2 separate regions of the Homo sapiens genome follow, and region 2 is linked to region 1. Evidence: fine-mapped expression QTL. Tissue or cell type: whole blood. Region 1 holds a variant in brackets; the other region holds the start of a gene. All regions are shown on one strand. Distances are between the middles of the regions.

Evidence for each region. PIP is the estimated chance that this variant, and not a neighbour inherited with it, causes the effect.
Region 2: it holds the start of PIBF1, and the variant in region 1 is fine-mapped to the expression of PIBF1 in whole blood (TOPMed, PIP 0.97).

Annotation. Positions count from the first base shown.
Region 1 is chr13:73,023,767-73,034,380 of GRCh38, reverse strand. No RefSeq gene overlaps it. Among named protein-coding and RNA genes, the nearest start is that of KLF5, 30 kb to the left of the region's middle. The variant G/A (reference allele first, on the strand shown) is at 6,261.
Region 2 is chr13:72,776,164-72,785,441 of GRCh38, reverse strand. PIBF1 (progesterone immunomodulatory binding factor 1) reads right to left here and starts at 3,309. Exons shown (of 18, transcript NM_006346.4): 1 at 3,093-3,309; 2 at 1,721-2,019. The coding sequence starts at 1,972. It overlaps DIS3 (DIS3 exosome endoribonuclease and 3''-5'' exoribonuclease), which reads left to right and starts at 3,542. Exons shown (of 21, transcript NM_014953.5): 1 at 3,542-3,837; 2 at 4,439-4,596; 3 at 7,062-7,255; 4 at 7,949-8,022. The coding sequence starts at 3,610. RefSeq lists enhancers at 3,409-3,518, 3,436-4,350 and a silencer at 3,799-3,848.

The DNA.
Region 1 (10,614 bases):
ACCGCAACCTCTGCCTCCCGGGTTCAAGTACTTCTCCTGCCTTAGCCTCCTGGGTAGCTGGGATTACAGGCATGTGCCACCACGCCCGGCTAATTTTGTATTTTTCGTAGAGACGGGGGTTTCTCCATGTTGGTCAGGCTGGTCTCGAAGTCCCGCCCTCAGGTGATCTGCCCGCCTAGGCCTCTCACAGTGCTGGGATTACAGGTGTGAGCCACCACGTGCCTGGCCTTGTTTTTTCTTAATTTTTATTTATTTATTTATTTTGAGACAGAGTCTTCTCTGTCGCCCAGGCTGGAGTGCAATGGCGAGATCTTCTTGGCTCACTGCAACCTCCACCTCCCAGCTCAAGTGACTCTCCTGCCTCAGCCTCCCAAGTAGCTGGGATTACAGGCGTGTGCCAACATGCCCGGCTAATTTTTTGTATTTTTTAGTAGAGACAGGTTTAGCCAGGATGGTCTTGATCTCCTGACCTCGTGATCCACCCGGCTCGGCCTCCCAAAGTACTGGGGTTACAGGTGTGAGCCACCAAGCCCGGCTGGATAACTTCTTTCATATGTCTCTGCCTTTAATGCTCTCTATAACCTATTAGGCAGGTACAATTATTACAATTTTCCTCCCCTCCCCCCAAGACAGAATGGGTTCTGGCACCCTGCCTGGAGTGCAGTGACCCAATCACAGCTCACTACAGCCTCCAACTCCTAGGCTCAAGCCATCCTCTGACCTCAGCCTTCCGTGTAGCTGGGATTATAGGAGTACACCACCACACCTGGCTAATTTTAATTTTTTAATAGAGACAGGGTCTTACTGTGTTTGCTCAGGCTGGTCTTCAAATCCTGGGCTCAAGGGATCCTCCTGTCTCAGCCCTGCAAGGTGTTGGAATTACAGTCGTGACCCACAAAGTCTAGCCTAATTCTTTGAATTTTAAAGATGAGTAACTATGGCTTAGAGAGGTTAAGTGGTCACACATGTAGTAAGAGGTGGTGCTGGAATGTAAAACTGGAAATATGAAGACACAGAAAAGGGATTACTTTTAATCACCATAGCTTCTAGAGACACATTAATGCCAATGGATATAGGATCAAAGGAATACTTAGCTGATGGATAGTCCACAAAATAACTGACATGTACTCCAAAAATATCAGTGTTATAAAAGACAGATTGAAGAACTATTCTAGATTAAAGAAGGTATAAGAGGCATGACCACTGAATGCAATGAGTAATCTGAGATTGACTTCTCAACAGAGGGCATATTAGGGCAACTGGGGAAATCTCAATAACATCTTTAGATTAGATAATAGTATTGTATCAATGTTAATTTCCTGATTTTGATCATTGTACTATGCTTATGTAAAAGAATGTTCTTATTCTTAGGAAATGCTCATGAAACATTATCAGTAAAGCAAAATCGTATCTGCAAAGTACTCTTAAAAGGCTCAGGGGAATAAACAAAAGAGACAAGGAAAAGGATAAAGTGATACAATGCAAATATTTGGAGAATCTCAGTAAAGAGCAAATGGTAATTATTTGCATGATTCTTGCAACTTTTTTGTAACTCTGATATTAAGTCAAAATTAGAAGTTTCTAGGCTGGGCTCTGTGGCTCATGCCGGTAATCCCAACACTTTGGGAGGCCAAGGTAGGAGGATCGCTTGAGCCGAGGAGTTTATTACCAGCCTGGACAACGTAGTAAGACCTCGTCTCTACAAAAAACTTAAAAAATTAGCTGGCATGGTGGCATGTACTTGTGGTTCCAGCTACTCGGGAGACTGAGGTGGGAGGACTGTTTGAGCCCAGGACTTAGACCAGGCTGGGCAACATGGTGAGACCCTGTTTTTACTAAAAAAAAAAAAAATTAGCCAGATGTGGTGGCACATGCCTATAGTCCCAGCTTGTTGGGAGTCTGAGGCGAGAGGATCACTTAAGCCCAGGAAGTTGAGGCTGCAGTGAGCCATGATCACGCCACTGTACTCCAGCCTCGGCAACAGAGTAAGACCCTGTCTCAAAATAAAAAAAAGTTTTTAGGGGGCCCCACCTACAGTCCCAGATACTCGGAGGCTGAGGCAGGAGGATCTCTTGATCCCAGGAGTTCAAGTCCACCCTGGGAAGAATAGTGAGACTCCCATCACTCTTTTAAAAAAAAAGTTAGCTGGCTCACACCTGTAATCTCAGCACTTTGGGAGGCCGAAGTGGGCAGATCACCTGAGGTCGGGAGTTCAAGACAAGCCTGGCCAACATGGTGAAACCCTGTTTCTACTAAAAATACAAAAATCAGCTGGGTGTGGTGGTGGGTGCCTGTAATCCCAGCTACTCGGGAGGCTGAGGCAGGAGAATAGCTTCAAGCCAGGAGGCAGAGGTTGCAGTGAGCCAAGATCGTGCCACCGCACTCCAGCCTGGGTGACAGAGTGAGACTTGGTCTCAAAAAAATAAAAATAACAATAAAAATAACAATAAAAAATGTTTAAAAAAACATTAAAAAATATGTAGGGCAGTAGAGCAATGAAAAAAGTTAAGAGGAAATATTCTGTAAACAATGAGTAACACAGGAACTGAGGTAGGAGAGACTTCAGGGATTGTAAAGGCTACAGAGGAAGATTTGCAAATCATTCATGAAAATGCATGACAGCCGGGCACGGTGGCTCATGCCTGTAATCCCAGCACTTTGGGAGGCCGAGGTGGGTGAATCACCTGAGGTCAGGAGTTCAAGACCAGCCTGGCCAATATGGTGAAACCCCATCTCTACTAAAAATACAAAAAAATTAGCTGGGTGTGGTGGCGGGCAGCTGTAATCCCAGCTACTCCAGAGGCTGAGGCAGGAAAATCACTTGAACCCGGGAGGCGGAGGTTGTGGTGAGCCAAGATTGTGCCATTGCACTCCAACCTGGGCAACAAGAGCAAAACTGCGTCTCAAAAGAAAAAAGAAAAGAAAACGCATGACAGTAATTGATGGATTAATCTCTCATTCATTCAGAAAAATACTTTCATCACTTAAATCTTAAAAAAAAAATACAGTTAAGCTTGGGCAACATGGTGAGATGCTGTCTCTACTAAAAGATACCAAAAAAATAGCTGGGTGTGGTGGTTCGTGCTTGTGGTCTCAGCTCCTTGGAGGCTGAGGCAGGAGGATCACTTGAACCCAGGAAGTTGAGGCTGCAGTGAGCCGAGATCATGCCAGTGCACTACAGCCTGGGAAACAGAGTGAGACTCTGTCTCAAAAAAAAAAAAAAAAAAAAAAGGAAAAGAAAAAACAAAATTAAAAAATACAGTTGTACAACAATTAGAATTTATTGATACCTGTTTTTCCAAACTGATGGAGACTTTTTGGTTACATAAATTAGTCTTTACTGACTCTTGGGAGGAACAGTATGTTTGAACAGAGACTAGACAGGTATCTTGAGAAAAGGAAGGGTGAAAAGAACATATTACAATAAATCAAGATATGAGGACAGGCGAGGTGGCTCATGTTTATAATCCCAGCACTTTGGGAGGCTGAGGTAGGAAGATTGCTTAAGCCCAGGAGTTCAAGACCAGCCTAGGCAACACAGTGAGACCCCAGCCCCGCAAAAAAACAAAACAAACAAAAAAAAACAAAAAAAAAAAACAAAAAAAAAACAAATTAGCCAGGCATGGTGGCTTATGCCTGTAGTCCCAGCTACTTGGGAGGCTGAAGCAGGAGAATGGCTTGAGCTGAGGAGCTGGAGGCCACAGTGAGCCATGATCACACCACTGTACTCCAGCCTGGGGGACAGAGACCCAGTATAGAGATTTCATTTTTTTCAAATTATGTTTACTGTTGTAGAGATGTCAAGAGTTCAATAAATAGCACCTCTCTTTTCAGGCAGTGGAAGACAAAAGAGAGATTTAAAATATTACTTTTAAATTTAAAATGTTGGAAGTCATAGTTTATTGTGAAGGCCAAATGGGCTTGAAGCATCCCCACTCCCACCCCCACTGTGTCCTCGACTTACCCACCAGTCACATGGGACGATGAAGACCTGCAACATGGGGAACAAAGAACTGCCCCAGGAATAGACTAGGCTGGTGGCTGGTTCTTTTGTAGAGAAAAACGGACAGGAAAAAGAAGAACTACACAAGTCAGTCCCTCAAAGGAAATGTAGCAATCAGACAGTCAGGAGACAGAAAGAGGCAGGAATATGTGGAAAAATCCACCCTTATGGAAAACAGGTAGAGTTTGGGGGCAGGGGAGAGAGGACACATTTATTTCCCTCTAATATTTTTTTCCTTTCTTTCTATTTTTTTTTTTTTAATTTTACTTTAAGTAAAATAAAAACTTTACTGAAGTTCTGGGATCCATGTGCAGAACGTGCAGGTTTGTTGCATACGTATACACGTGCCATACCGGCTTGCTGCACCTTTTCCTTTCTTTCTTTTCTCTTTCCCACTTCTCCTTCCCCTTCCCTTCCCTTCTCCTCTTCTTTTCTCTTTTCTTTTCCTTTTTAGAGACAAGGTTTCCCTCTGTTGCCCAGGCTGGAGTGCAGTCATAGGATCATAGCTCACTGCATCCTCTACCACCTGGCTCAAGCAATCCTCTCCCCTCAGCCTCCCAAGTATCTGAGACTACATGCACACACCACCAAATCTGGCTAATTTTTAAAATTTTTTGTAGAGATGGGGTCTTGCTACATTGCCCAGGCTGGCCTCAAACTCCTGGCCTCAAGAGATCCTCCGACCTAGGCCTCCCAAAGCACTGGGATTACAGGCATGAGCCACCGTGCCTGGCTTTCCCTCTAATACTTTCTATCTCAAAGAAGAGTAGAGAAAAACAAGACAAAACATGGGACTCAGCTGAACACTGAAGAATGACTTTACGGGAAGGGCTGAGGGAAAAGAGCATTTACACTGGAAGAAGAGAGAGACAAAGGCTTAGGGACTCAGTCGTAGCAGGTGGAGCCAGCGCGCTTTGGGAGATAGTTTTACTTCAGTAATTGAGGAAGGAACCAGGTTGTAATGGGTACATGAGAGTGAAGGAGGGTCTCCTTTCTGTGTTTTCTCTTTTGTCCTTTCCTCAGCTGTTGGTATCTGTTGGGATTTTGTCTTGGGTCTCCTGCATTTCTCAGTCCACATTCTTCAGGGATCATCTCATTGCTGCTCGTGCATCTCAATATAAAGAGTGCAACAAGCACAAAGGGGCTAATCTTGGAAGGAAGAAACTTGTTGTTTTCTGAGATCAGAGAAAAAATATGTTAAGATACTGAGCTGTTTCAGTGCCTAGCAATAACGAGATAGACAATGACCTTCCTTGCTTTTCTGGGTAATGTGGGAGGAGAAAGGATGATCTAATTAGTTTTTAAAATTTGTTTCCAACAAAAATTCAATACAAAAAAATTAAAAGTAAATGTCACTTCCCTTCTTTTCTTTCTTTCTTCCTACCATTGAACAAAATTTGACAGGGGAGTCAATTGTTCTGTGTGCTGGGGATACAGCAGCGACACAGATAAGACTGTTGGCTTTCATGGAATGTATTATATTCTATTTAGATAGGATAGGCAATAAGCAAATAGAAAAGAAAGAAGAAAATTACAGATACTGCTCTAAAGAAAATAAAGAGAGAAATGGACTATAGAGTGATGTGGAGGTATAGGGAGACAGGCTGAACACTAAGCCTCAGAATATTAATTTAAGAAATTATATATCTACATATTGAACACATTATACAATTGAGGTATTTAAAAAACAAATCTAGGGCCGGGCATGATGGCTGATGCCTGTAATCTCAGCACTTTGGGAGGCCGAGGTGGGCAGATCACTTGAGGTCAGGAGCTTGACATGAGACTGGCCAACATGGTGAAACCCCATCTCTACTAAAAATACAAAAATTGGCCAGGCCTGGTGGCATGCACCTGTAATCCCAGCTACTCGGGAGGCTGAGGCAGGAGAATCGCTTGAACCTGGGAGGCAGAGGTTGCAGTGAGCCAAGATCGTGCCACTGCACTCCAGCCTGGGTGACAGAGCGAGACTCCATCTCAAAAAACAAACAAACAAACAAACAACAACAACAACAACAACCCCAACAAATTTAAGATTATTTAGATGACAAAAAAATAATACCAACATTCTATAATTCTGTATATTTCTGCCTAAGGCCATTTACCCCTGATCGTATGAAACCAAAGCAAATAAGAATCAATTTTTTTGGCTGGGTGCTGTGGCTCACACCTGTCATCCCAGCACTTTGGGAGGCTGAGGCAGGTTGATTACGAGGTCAGGAGTTCGAGACCAGCCTGGGCAACATGGTGAAACTCC[G/A]TCTCTACTAAAAATACAAAAATTAGCTGGGCGTGGTGGCACGTGCCTGTAGTCCCAGCTACTCGGGAGGCTGAGGCAGGAGGATTACTTGAACCACGGAGTCGGAGGTTGCAGTGAGCTGAGATCACGACACTGCACTCCAGCCTGGTAACAGAGTGAGACTCCATCTCAAAAAAAAAAAAAAAATCAAAAAACATTTTAAGCTCAATTCACCTATCTGTATGACTGTTTGCTAGAACACTCACATGCTAAATTTTATTACACTTTTTTTGAAAGAACAGGCCCATAAAGAATCTGTGACTAAAGACCCCACATGGAGCCAGGTGTGGTGGCTCACTTCTGTAATCCCGGCACTTTAGGAGGCCAAGGCAGGAGGATCCCTTGAGCCCAGGAGTTCAAGACCAGCCTGGGCAACATAGGGAGACTCTGTTTCTATTAAAAAAAAATGAAGATGAAAAAAGTAAAAAAGATAAAAGATTCCACATGGACTGGGTGGAGTGGCTCATGCCTATAATCCCAGCCCTTTGGGAGGCCAAGGCAGGAGGATCCCATGAAGGCAGGAATTTGAGACCAGCCTGGGCAACATAGTGAGACCCGTCTGTACAAAAAATAAAAAAATCAGCTGGGAGTGGTGGCATGGGCCTGTAGTCCTAGCTACTTGGGAGGCTTAAGGCAGGAGGGTTGCTTGAGCCCAGGAGTTCAAGGCTGCAGTGAGCCATGACTGCACTACTGCACTCCAGCCTGGGTGACGGAGCAAGACCCTGTCTCTATTTAAAAACATAAAAATAAAGAAAAGATCCTACAAGGACAAACATTTTCTGGTGTATTTGGCCATATAATTAATTTTGGTTAACTGGATGGACACACCAATTAATTCTATGATTAACAAAAATTCGTAGCTGTGGACATCAGTGCCGCACAAGTAAAGACCTGGCTGCAGTTCCTGCTTGCCCACTGATTCATTGATTCGGCCATCTTGTAGTGTATATTTGTTGTTCTAAGCTCTGAGGATACCAGCAGTCAATATCACAGACGTGTTCTTTGCTCTCCTAGAGTTTGATCTAATGGACACAGCATTTTATCTTTCTTTTAGTCACCAAAGGTAATAGGAATTAGATAAATGTTTTCATTATTTATTTGAGGTCCCTAGCATCATAGCTTTGTTCTTTGCTCTAGCTTCTGGTATTAATGAAAGCGTCACCCCCCCAACCTTTTTTTTTTTTTTTTTGTGATGGAGTCTCGCTCCGTCTCCGAGGCTGGAGTGCAGTGGTGTGATTTTGGCTCACTGCAACCTCTGCATCCCGGGTTCAAGCAATTCTCCTGCCTCAGCCTCCTGAGTAGCTGGGACCATAGGCGCATGCCACCAAGCCCAGGTAATTTTTGTATTTTTAGTAGAGATGGGGTTTCACTGTGTTGGCCAGGTTGGTCTTGAACTCCTGACCTCAGGTGATCCGCCCGCCTTGGCCTCCCAAAGTGCTGGGATTACAGGTGTGAGCCACTGCGCCCGGCTGAGCCTTTTGAATATATCTTTATGTATAAGCATTTGAATATCTATGTAAATAGACTATATATATATTTTTAGAAAATGCCAAAAGAAAGAAATTAACATTTTATAGAGTGTATAGTACATTCCTGGAACTGTGCTAGTAACAGGTAATGATAATGACCCAATCATACTAATAATAGTAAATCAAGATGATCATACCAGAAATAAATGGCAGGAACTGAAAGTAAAAGAGACACATTACGACTCTGATTGCAGTATTAGAAATAAGTGAGGACAGTAATGAGAAAGAAGACATCACTAGTTTATAATGCCTACACATATTTTAGAGCACAATTTAAAATGTTAGTGACATTTCTGCTACATGTTTGCTACATAACATTAACAACTTGCTTAATAAAGCCCTAACAGATGGCATTCAGAAAATTACATATGCTGTGAACTTTGAAAGTTTAGGGGATAAAAATTTAATTTTAGATCCTCTAATTGTTCTATAGTTGTTAAAGAGAAGATAAAGCATGATTAGATATAGAAAAGATATTCAGTATTCAATAATTACATGACATAAAGTAACAAAGTTAAAGAGGAAACAAAAACAGATCCATTATTCTGATTCAGGTACCAATTTGTTAATTAAAGAAATTTTAAAAAGCTTTTTCAAAAATAGAAAGAGAGAGGGAGAGAGGAGAGATAAGAGCAAGAGAGAAAGAGAAATAGGTATCTGAAAAGTACATGGCCTTGGAGAATTTCATAGTGCTTTCTTGAAAATGATGTCAATGGAAATAAATACCAACGATATAAATAAACCCTGTTATTTAAAGACAATGTTTGTAAGGTGATTAGAATGACTTTAATGACGCTTTAAAATGGAATTTCAATTGTATTTCAATGACTTGGTTGAGATATGAGGTACATTCTTTTTAAAAATTTCTTTCATTTTTTTCTTTTTTTTTTTTTTCTGACCAATGGATTCATGTCCTAAGTACATTCTTTTTTCAGAGGGATGTTAAAGTATTCGAAGTCTGAATGATTACTGAATGATTACTCCAGATCACGTTACAATAGCAACACTGGAAATAAATGAAATATAATTTGTGTTGCTGGTATGAGGCTTGAAGGTATTGCGTATAACATGTAAGAACTGGGGAAAAACAACCCTCTGTGAGTGAAACTATGAAGTCATCATTTCCTGGTTTAGAGCAGAGGTATGTAGTCATCAGGAAAGCAGGTTCACTGGCTTCCAGGTCTAGAATAAATTAGCACATGTGAGACAATGTGGTAATGACAGAGGTGGATGGGGATTGCCAATCTGAAATCCATAAAATCAAAGTCTGGAGGAGAATGCATATCTTGGCAGTGTCTAGGGCAGTGGTCTTTAAAAGCTTGTTTTTGGCCATGAACTATAATAAATGCTTTTATTTTATTTAATTATTTTTATAGAGATGAGGTCTTGCTATGTTGTGCAGGCTGGAACTCCTGGGCTCAAGGAATTCTCCTGCCTCAGCCTCCCAAGTAGCTGGGACTACAAGTGTGCCACTGCATCTGGTTAAGAAATACATTTTAGATGGGGCTTGGTGGCTCACACCTGTTAGCTCAACACTTTGGGAGGCTGAGGTGGGAGGATCACTTGAGTCTAGGAATTCGAGACCAGCCTGGGTATCATAATGAGGCCGTGTTTCTACAAAAACAAACAAAAACTTAGCTGGGCATGGTGGCATGCACCTGTGATCCCAGCTACTTGAAAGGCTGAAGTGGGAGGATTGCTTGAGACCCAGAGGTTAAGGTTGCAGTGCGCCATAATTGTACCACTGCACTGCAGCCTGGGCAACAGAGTGAGACCCTGTCTCAAAAACAAAACACCCCCAAAAACCCCTAACATCTTATATTGCGATCTGCTTTCTCGCTTTGTGTGTGTGTATATCAGAAACCTGAGATCTAGAGGATGAGGAGGACTTAGGGGAGGTTAGTATTCTAGGTAGGCAGTATTCTAAGTAGAGAAGGCAGAATGTGGTGAAGAGCCTGAGAAAAGAAACAGCTGGAAGAGTTTAAGGAATTCAAAAAAGGCCACTGAATACCATGGAGGAGCTCAAAAGAAGTTTGGGTTTGGATCAGGCAGGGCCTGTACCCTGTGGCCTGGGCAGTGTTTGCTGGAATGGTGTAGCCCAGTGAGCTGAGTGTAAGCACCTCTTCCTAGCCCCATTTTGGTAGCTCTACGCTGGCCATAGTGGGAGTATTCATTCATTCCATCCTGCCATGAAAATCTAGGCCCCACTATGAAAATCAGGGTCTTTTTTCCTGGGAGCTGATGGTTAAACATTCATGAACACACCTTTGGGGTTATTCTACTACTTTTTAGATTTGTTGCATTTCCCTCCAGGGTTCAGGAGACAGAAACTATCCCCACAAACTAAACACCAGCCCCAAAGTTAATATTATGTCCCTTTTTCTTTTCTTTTCTTTTCTTTTTTTCTCCCTATATCACCTAGGCTAGAGTGCAGTGGCACCATCTTGGCTTACTGCAGCCTCCGCCTTCTGGGTTCAAGTGATTCTCCTGCCTCAGCCTCCCAAGTAGCTGGAACTATTTATATTTTCAGTAGAGATGGGGTTTTGCCATGTTGGCCAGGCTGGTCTCAAACTCCTGATCTCAAGCAATCTTCCCACTCGGACTCCCAAAGTGCTGGGATTACAGGCATGAGCCACTGCTCCCAGCCATTTTTTTTTTTTTTCATTTTTGTCAGCTAACATTCCTTCTCATTTATTGGAATTAAGTTTTGATTTTTTTGAAGGAAAAAATTGTAATGAAATTTTTTTCCTCTGTTTTTGATCTCTTTATTTTACATGACTGGACAT
Region 2 (9,278 bases), 250 kb after region 1:
GCAAAATGGGGTTCAGTCATTCATTTAAGAAATAGCTGGGCACTTAATTTGTGTCAGGCACCGTTCTAAGTGCTGGAAATACAACCATGAATACAAAAACATCCCCGTCCTCATGGACCTCATAGTCTATTCACAGACAAATAACAAACAAATTCAGTCCGATGGCCATAAAAGGCACAGAAAATGAAAGGGATGAAACAGATAAGGATGCTATGTTAGTTGAAAACAACAACGGCTAATACGTCTTGTGTGCTTATTTTTTTTTCTCCCCTCAAAATTTGTATATTGAAACCTAATCACCAATGTGAGTAGCAGGAAGTTGGGGCCTTTGGGGTGATTAGGTTATAAGGGTAGAACCCTCACTGTTGGGATTGGTGCCCTTATAAAAGTGATCCCAGAGAGCTAGCTGGGCATGGTGGGGAGCACTTGTAATCCCAGCTACGTGGGAGACTGAGGCAGGAGAATTGCTTGAACCCAAGAGGTGGAGGTTGCAGTGAGCCAAGATTGTGCCACTGAACTCCAGCCTGGGTGACAGAGCAAGACTGTCTCCAACAACAACAACAAAAAACAACAAAATACCTCATATGTTAGATTTTTTAAATTGAGCCTACAAAAGTAATTTATCCATATCTACGTTTAAATCACTCCATATTTCAATACTTAAATTATTATTATTATTTTTTTGAGATAGGGTCTCACTCTGTTACCCAGGCTGGAGTGCAGTGGTACGATCTCAGCTCACTGCAATGTCTGCCCCCGGATTCAAGTGATTCTCCCGCCTCAGCCTCGGAAGTAGCTGGGCCTGCAGGCGCAGCACCACTACGCGGGGCTATTTTATTTTTTTAGTAGCAAGGGTGGTCTCACCATGTTGCTCAGGGTAGTCTCGAACTCCTGAGCTTGGAGCAATCCACTGGCCTCAGCATCCAAAGTGCTGGAATTACAGGTGTGAGCCACCGCACTTGGCCTCCAATTATTATTATTATTATTATTACTAGTTTTTGAGAGTCTTGCTGTGTTGCCCAGGCTGGAGTGCAGTGGCACGATTGTGGCTCACTGCAAACTCTGCCTCCTGGGTTCAAGCAATTCTCCTGCCTCAGCCTCCCGAGCAGCTGGGATTACAGGCACCCACCATCATGGCTGGCTAATTTTTTTTTTTTTTTTTTTTTAAGTAGAGCTGGGGTTTCACAATGTTGGCCAGGTTGGTCTCAAACTCCTGACCTCAGGTGATCCCAACTGACAGATAAAACTGTGTGTATATGTCATGTACAACATAATGTTTTGAAGTATACGTACATTGTGAAATGGTTAACTCTAGCTAATTAAAAAATGTTTTACCTCACATAGTTATTTTAGTAATGAGAACACTTAACATCTGCTGTGTTTTTCAAAAACACAATGTTTTCCAAGATTACAATGTCATTAACTATAGCCACCATGCTGTCCAATAGATCTCTTGAATGTATTCCTCCTATTCAACTGTAATTATGTATCCTTTGACCAACATCTCCCCAACCCTCCTTCACCCCTAACCATGCCAGCCCTTGGTAACCACCATTCTATTCTCTACTTCTATGAACACCAAAATTATTTAAAGGCTGTACTTGTCAAGAAATATAAATGTATCATTTCAAGTTCAGATAATGTGTGTATTTAATTCTTATTTACCTGCCGTTTGAAGACAATAAAGCATATAGAACACAAAATTTAAACCTGATCTTACCTTTGTAAGATAATCCACTTTCAAATTGTCGATCATCATAGTTTTCTGGGATAGCTCAATTTTTAGTAACTGAATATTATGAAGTAGTTCTTTTCGTTCAATTAGCTGCCTGGTGATTCTGACTTTGCCCTCTCGCTCTTCTGATGAGGAAATATCATCCGTAGGAACTGTTGTTTCTAAACTAATATCTTCAGATTCCAGAGAACTAGAGATGTTCACTTTTTTTGACTCCTTTGAAATTTTTCGAGACATTTTTATTATTATGGATCAGTTTTCTTCTCTAATTTGATTTTAATATTCTGTAGGTTAAAAAACATTAATTCAAATGTACTATAAAATTAACTACAGAAATCATGGACTGTATTAAAGAGAGACTAAGGATTCCTTAAATAAATATTAGGCAATTTAGTGCATCCCAAATCTAGAACAGATTATTGCAGTTAAGTTAATGCTCAAATCAAACACATTAATTCCTAATATGAAGTCAGCCTTCGAGAAACTTAAAAAAACAGTTCCTGCGGGGAGGAATCTTACTTGGAGGAAACAAAGAAATGTACAAGATGAAGAAAAAAGCCCATTATAATCAAGAATGGCACCACTAAAACCAACACATGCTCAAAGATAACAGAAATCACGTCTGAGTTGGTCAGGGAAACGTTACACAGAGGTAGCACTTAGAATCTTTAAAGATTTGGACAGGCATGGTAAAAAGGAGAAATCATGCAGTTATTAATGATACGTAAGTGGAAGTAAAAAAACAAAGCCAAGTCTTGGAATAGTTACTCCTTTCACCGCCCCCCCAACACAAACACAAACACACACACACACACACACACACACACACACGCCCTTAACGATCAAGACTGGAAGGCCTTAAATGTCAAAATAGGGTTGGATTTTATTCTACAGGCAATGAGGCATCATTGAAGATGTTTTAAATAGGGAAAACGGGGACAAAAACATTTTTTATAGATAGCAGAATGAAAACAACAGGATATAAGAAAAATTCAAGAAATTCTAAATAGAACTTACTTCTAACTCTCTCATAAGAATGTTAGCAACTACCTTGTTTTAATACCTCATGATATAACAAATTATGCTATTAAATATTTCAGTTTTTCTAAACTGAATGATAAGGAAAGGTGTGTGGAGGGGAAACAGCGAGAACTATACTAAGATCGGCCTCCCTCCTTCTTTTTGAAGGGAAATAGGTAAGAAAAAGTGAATTCAAAGACAAATTCTCTCCTCGATTACAAAGGGCCCGAGACGGGGACTGCCTATACACTCGGCGTGAAAATTAAGCCCCAAACTTGGCAGCTCGGGGGATTCCTTGCCCCACGCGGGAAAGAAAGCGATGATAGTCGCAAGTTACCTCGAAAGTGTCAATTACTCCACACTGAAGCCTTGACCAGCAGCCAGTGCAGACACCGAGGGACCAAAGGCGTCTCCGGTCGGAAGCACAAGGTTGCAGGCCCTCAACAAGGGATTTCAAGGCAGGGGACCGTTAGGACCCGTAACCAAGACAACCATCTCCGCACCCGCAAGGAGGACAGAACCAGCACTCCCACAAGCCGCCGGAAGTCAACTCTCCCGGATGTTCCGAGGAGCGGAAAGCAACACACGTTGTGAGGTGGCGTCCAGAAGGAAGCCCCGCCTAGGCCACGGGCGGAAATGGCTCCTCGCCTTGCTTTGCCGCCCCTCCCCACTCTCGCCCAATCCCCGCGGCCGTCAGAGAGCCAACCAATGTTTATCTCGGCATTTTCCCGCGAGAAGTGTTACTAATATCCGGGAATGGAAAGGGAAGAACCTCCGGGGTTAGGCGTATTCTAGATTGACGCCTTTTGCTGGAAGAGCGCTGCTGGGGTTAGGATTCTGCGCGGCGAGGCAAGATGCTCAAGTCCAAGACGTTCTTAAAAAAGACCCGGGCGGGCGGCGTGATGAAGATCGTGCGCGAGCACTACCTGCGAGACGACATCGGCTGCGGTGCGCCCGGGTGCGCAGCGTGTGGAGGGGCGCACGAGGGGCCGGCCCTGGAGCCGCAGCCCCAGGACCCGGCGAGCAGCGTCTGCCCGCAACCGCACTACTTGCTGCCCGACACTAATGTGTTACTGCACCAGGTGCGTGGGCGGGCGAACCGCGGACAGCGCGGCCCCACGGGGACAAGGGGGTATGACAGGGAAACTGAGGCCCAGGGAGGCGGGTCTTTGGCAGTGTCACATACCTAGCGAAAGGGAAACCCCCTCGGGACCGAAGCTTCCTGTTCCCCAGGCCGAGGTTCTTTTCCTTGTGCTTTAAAAAATTTAGTTCTTGGAGTCGTAGTTCAGACACGTTATTTTTCTAACTCCTGGTGTCTCTTCTGCCTTAGATTGTAAGTGCCTGGAGGCCGGGGACCTGGGCTTCTGTGGCCTCCAGCCTGCGACTCCCAGGCAGCTTGTAAGTGCCTAGGAACAAAAAACTATGTGGGCCAACGTATTCCTTTATTAATACCCTTAATTCTACGAAGTCTTGTGATTGGTCTGTTTAAGTGTGCTTTTTTTAATAGATCTGAAGGGTTTAGTGACTATTGTCTCGTTTTCTATAGCCAAATAGCTTCTTGGCTTAACTTATTCAGTGTTTTTAAAACATAAAGTATTTATGCCCAACATAAAACAGGATTTTATGTTTGACAGAGCTATTTACAAATGAATATAGGAAAAATTAACTTTATCTTTCTTTAAGATTGATGTTCTTGAGGACCCTGCCATCAGGAATGTAATTGTGCTACAAACAGTTCTTCAAGAAGTGAGAAATCGCAGTGCCCCCGTATATAAACGCATCCGAGATGTGACTAATAACCAAGAGAAGCATTTCTATACTTTCACTAATGAGCACCATAGGTAGGAGGAATATTACGTTAAATATCAGAAAACCACAGGATTAGCAAAATTCGGGAGAGGGTTCCTGTGAGTAATTTATGACATTGTCAGAAGATAAGTGATAGATTTCATACCTTATTTAATTCTTACATGGCTGTGCAGAAGATAATGCTAAGTGGATCTCTCTAAGGTCACACAGGCATTGATGGGCTCAAGCCTAAAACCAAGGTCTGCTGACTCCTAGACTACAATAGGTACTTTAATTTCCAAAATGTTTTCATTTTGAATTGGTTTTAGCATGAGTTGGACCATAGAATCTTGGAAGATGAGATTTGCTTAAGTTCCTGGAATACCATATTATGTGAACAACTAACAGAGGGTAATAAAATATATGAGTTTGTGAAGTTTCTATTTTGTTTAAAAATAGAAAGTAGATTTATTCTTAATGGTCTTTTTAAAAGTTTAATACTTTGCAGCTGATTACATTGAGCAAGATTAGGTTAAGGAATAGAATTCTTTTTTTTTTTTTTTTTTTTTTTTTGAGATGGAGTCTCACTCTGTCACCCAGGCTGGAGTGCAGTGGTGTGATCTCTGCTCACTGCAACCTCCACCTCCCAAGTTCAAGCGATTCTTCTGCCTCAGCCTCCTGAGTAGCTGGGATTACAGTCACGCACCACTATGCCAGGCTAATTTTTGTATTTTTAGTAGAGACAGGGTTTCACCATGTTGGTCAGGCTGGTCTCGAATTCCTGACCTCGTGATCCACCTGCCTCAGCCTCTCAAAGTGGTGGGATTACAGGCATGAGCTACCGTGCCTGGCCAGGAATATAATTCTTTGTTGTGCTTTTAGATTCAAGACCTTTGAACTCAGTGTGTGGTCTCAAAAATATGATATTGCCTATTACGTTATATTACATAAATAATCTATGATGAGTATGGTACTTTTATTGGATTAGATCAGGGCTTCTCAATCTTGGCATTATAGATATTTTGAACTGAATAATTTTTTTGTGGTGGAAAGGCTGTTTTATACATTGTAGTATGTTTAACAGTGTTCCTAGCCTATTTGGCAGGATCACCACCCCTTACCCCCCCCACCACCACCACCACCACCACCACTCAGTTGTAATGATACAAAATGCCCTGAGGGGTGAATTCACTCAATTGAGAACCATTGGATTAGAGTGTAGACTTCTGGTAATGAAATTCCATCAGATTATGCACATTTTTAAAAACCTTAATATCTCAACTTTCTTGATTCTTATATCTCAAACTTCAATGTTCTTGTAAAGAATACCAGTAAAGCCCTTGTAGGCTTCTTATTGTTAGTACCTCCTTGAAATCCAGAAATAGCAACATCACTTGTTTTTCAGTGCAGAAAGACCCAAGTTTAAAACCAATTCAAAAATTTATGACTGTGTCTTTCACTGATGAGCTTAAAACATTAGCAGCTGGGCGTGGTGGCTTATGTCTGTAATCCTGGCACTTTGGGAGGTTGAGGTGGGCAGATCACTTGAGGCCAGGAGTTCCAGACCAGCTTAGCCAACCTGGAAAATCCCTGTCTCTTAAAAATACAAAAATTAGCTGGTTATGGTGGTACATGCCTCTAGTCCCAGCTACTTGCGAGGCTGAGTTGGGAGGATCACTTGAACCCGGAGGTAGAGGTTGCAGTAAGCTGAGATCATGCCACTGCACTCCAGCCTGAGCTACAGAGCAAGACTCTGTTTCAAAAAAAAAAAAAAAGCATTAGCAAGTGCATTCAACGATGAGGAATAAAATAATTCTAAAACTATTAATATAAATCAAATTATTAAATTGAATCTATTACCATTAAGTACTGGAAGCTATTGTAGTGAACTTTGCTGTTGTACTTAAACCTGGCTTTGATGAACAGATTTAAAGAAATAGATGAATGTGTTGACATACTTGGGAGTTTAGATAGAAGAAATACGTAATATCTATTAATATACCTGACTTTTCAGTCTCTACATAGCTTCAGCTATTAGTGTTTACCATGGATAATTTATATGCATTATTTATTAATGACTGTAGAATTCTGATTATAAATGATCTAATTATACTATTTGTAGCTTTTAGGAATTGCTATTAACCTACAGTTTGAATGAAATCTGATTATCATACCTGTGAAATTGTATTATAATTTGTCAACAAACTATTATTTAGTGTCTCAACCTAAAGTATAAATTCTGATCTTGAATTTTTCTTTTTAGGAAATAAAATTGTATTAGCCTTTTTCTTGTCCCCTTAATAACATAATTTTCTTCTTTTCCAAGCAAATTGTTTCTTAAAAACTTAATTATAAGAATCTTGATTTCTTCTCTGAGGTGTACATCTGAATACATTCAAGAGAAAAGATATACCATTGACTTTTTCTAGTTTAGTGGTTAAGCATTTATGTGCTAAGAGTTTTCACATATCCTTGTTTCTACTGATTTCCTTTTATTTCGTTTTTTCTTTCCATTTAGAGAAACCTATGTAGAACAAGAACAGGGAGAAAATGCTAATGACAGGAATGATAGAGCGATTCGAGTAGCAGCAAAATGGTACAATGAACATTTGAAAAAAATGTCAGCAGACAACCAGCTGCAAGTTATCTTCATAACAAATGACAGGAGAAACAAAGAGAAAGCCATAGAAGAAGGAATACCAGCTTTCACTTGTAAGTCTAAATGTAGAAGTACTTAGTGCATGTTTGCAAATGCGTGTAAAAATAATCATTAGGCCTATAGTCAGATGTTCACTTTACTATTTAGTATTTTCGTAGTCCTATATAACTTCATGTGATATTTTTGTATTTTTAAATTTCACATAGTTTTTAACCTAAATATGTTGTGCCCAGTGGCTGTTAATTTTCCCCTCACTATTTGCAACTGGTTTAGCAATGAAATCTCATAAATATACTGGAACCCCTGCTTCTGCTTAGGTATGATCACATCAACAGATTTTTGGGTTTTGTTTTTTAAATAAATTGAGGCCAGGTGCTGTAATCCCAGCACTTTGGGAGGTCAGGGCAAGAGGCTTGCTTGAGACCAGGAGTTCAGGACCAGCCTGGGCAACATAGGGAGACTATAGCTCTACAGGAAAAAAAAAAAAAGCCGTGCATGGTAGTATGTAACTATAGTCCCAGCTACTCGGGAGGCTAAGGCAGGAAGGTAGCTTGAGCCCAGGGATTCTAGGCTGTAGTGATGTGTAATTGCGCCGCTGCACTCCAGCCTGAGAGACAGAGTGAGACTCTCAGTGTGTCTCAATGAATGAAAGAATGACGTGTATACTGTCGCAAACAAGACTATCCATTTTTTTCATATCTAAGGAAAAAACACTTATCAAAAACAACATAAACTTATTTTTTCAGGTGAAGAATATGTAAAGAGCCTAACTGCTAACCCCGAACTCATAGATCGTCTTGCTTGTTTGTCTGAAGAAGGGGTATGTTTTTGTTTTGTTTTTGAAAAGTAAAAATATTAAAATAGCCACTTTGGAATATTAGGCATATAGTTACCAAATTTAAAAATTGGAATGTCGGTGGGTAAGCTGGATTTGGAATAGTTGTGTTATAAACAGGAGTGGATGTCATAGGCTTATTGAAATGCCATTCCTAAAGGAGTTAACTTTCTAAAATAGATATATTCCCATTAACCTGAGTAGGGCCTGGTACCTGGTAGCACTGTTTGGTTGAGGAAAAAATGAACGGAGTCCATGGCTGATTTGTGAATAAAGAGTAGCTGCTGACAAATGAAGTGGCAGGCACTGCAGACAGAGGAAAGAAGAGGGAGGGGAGTGTCCAGATAGTAAAGACCTAGAACTTATTCTGTAGGTTAGTAATTTTTCAATTGATTTATAAAGATCTCCCTGAAGGGCTGCTATGAAGAGGAAAGGATTCTGAGATCCCTTCCTTATATGTCAGGCTAAGAAAAAGTAATGGTATATGAATGTGGATTGGTGGAGCAGGAGAGAATGATTGGAAATGGTATTTGTTTGTAAGACCACTCTCATGTCAGTGTGTAACATTAAGCATTTTATCCAGGAAAGATTAGAGGCAGAGAGGTGAGTAAAGGAGTCATTACAATAGCTGATGTGAGAAGGAGTGCTAAGGGAATAATTAAATTCTGAGCATTCATTTTCTTATATATAAATATATAATGTTTAGCAATAATAACTTCATAGTGTTGTTATAAGGATCAAATAAGATGATAACTGTAGCATTAATACAATTTTCATCCTAGTGCCTGGCACATAGGTATGGTAAATATAAATGGTAGCCCTTGTTATAGAAATAGGTTTTAAGTGATAGGACATTATACATAAATCCAGTCTTTACACTTCTGTCATCCCTTCTTACCTTTATGATACTTTATGAAACCAAAAGGAAATGAGAAGATAAAAGTTGGGTTTGATTTTTGAAATACAGATTTAGTATTGCCCTAATATGTAGCCACTTAGTTATATATGACTATTTAAATTTAATATGTATTAAAAATTCAGTTTCTTGGTGGTACTATCTGTCTTTCAAGTGCCCAAGAGAAACTTGTGTCTAGTGGCTACCATATTAGAGATCGCAAAATGAATACTTCCTTCATCATAGAAAGCTGTTTTTGTTAGCACTGGCCTATAAGAAACACTGCTATCTTCTCTCCTATTCAGAGTTGTGTATATCATAATGTAGATTTCAAAAATTCTCTGAT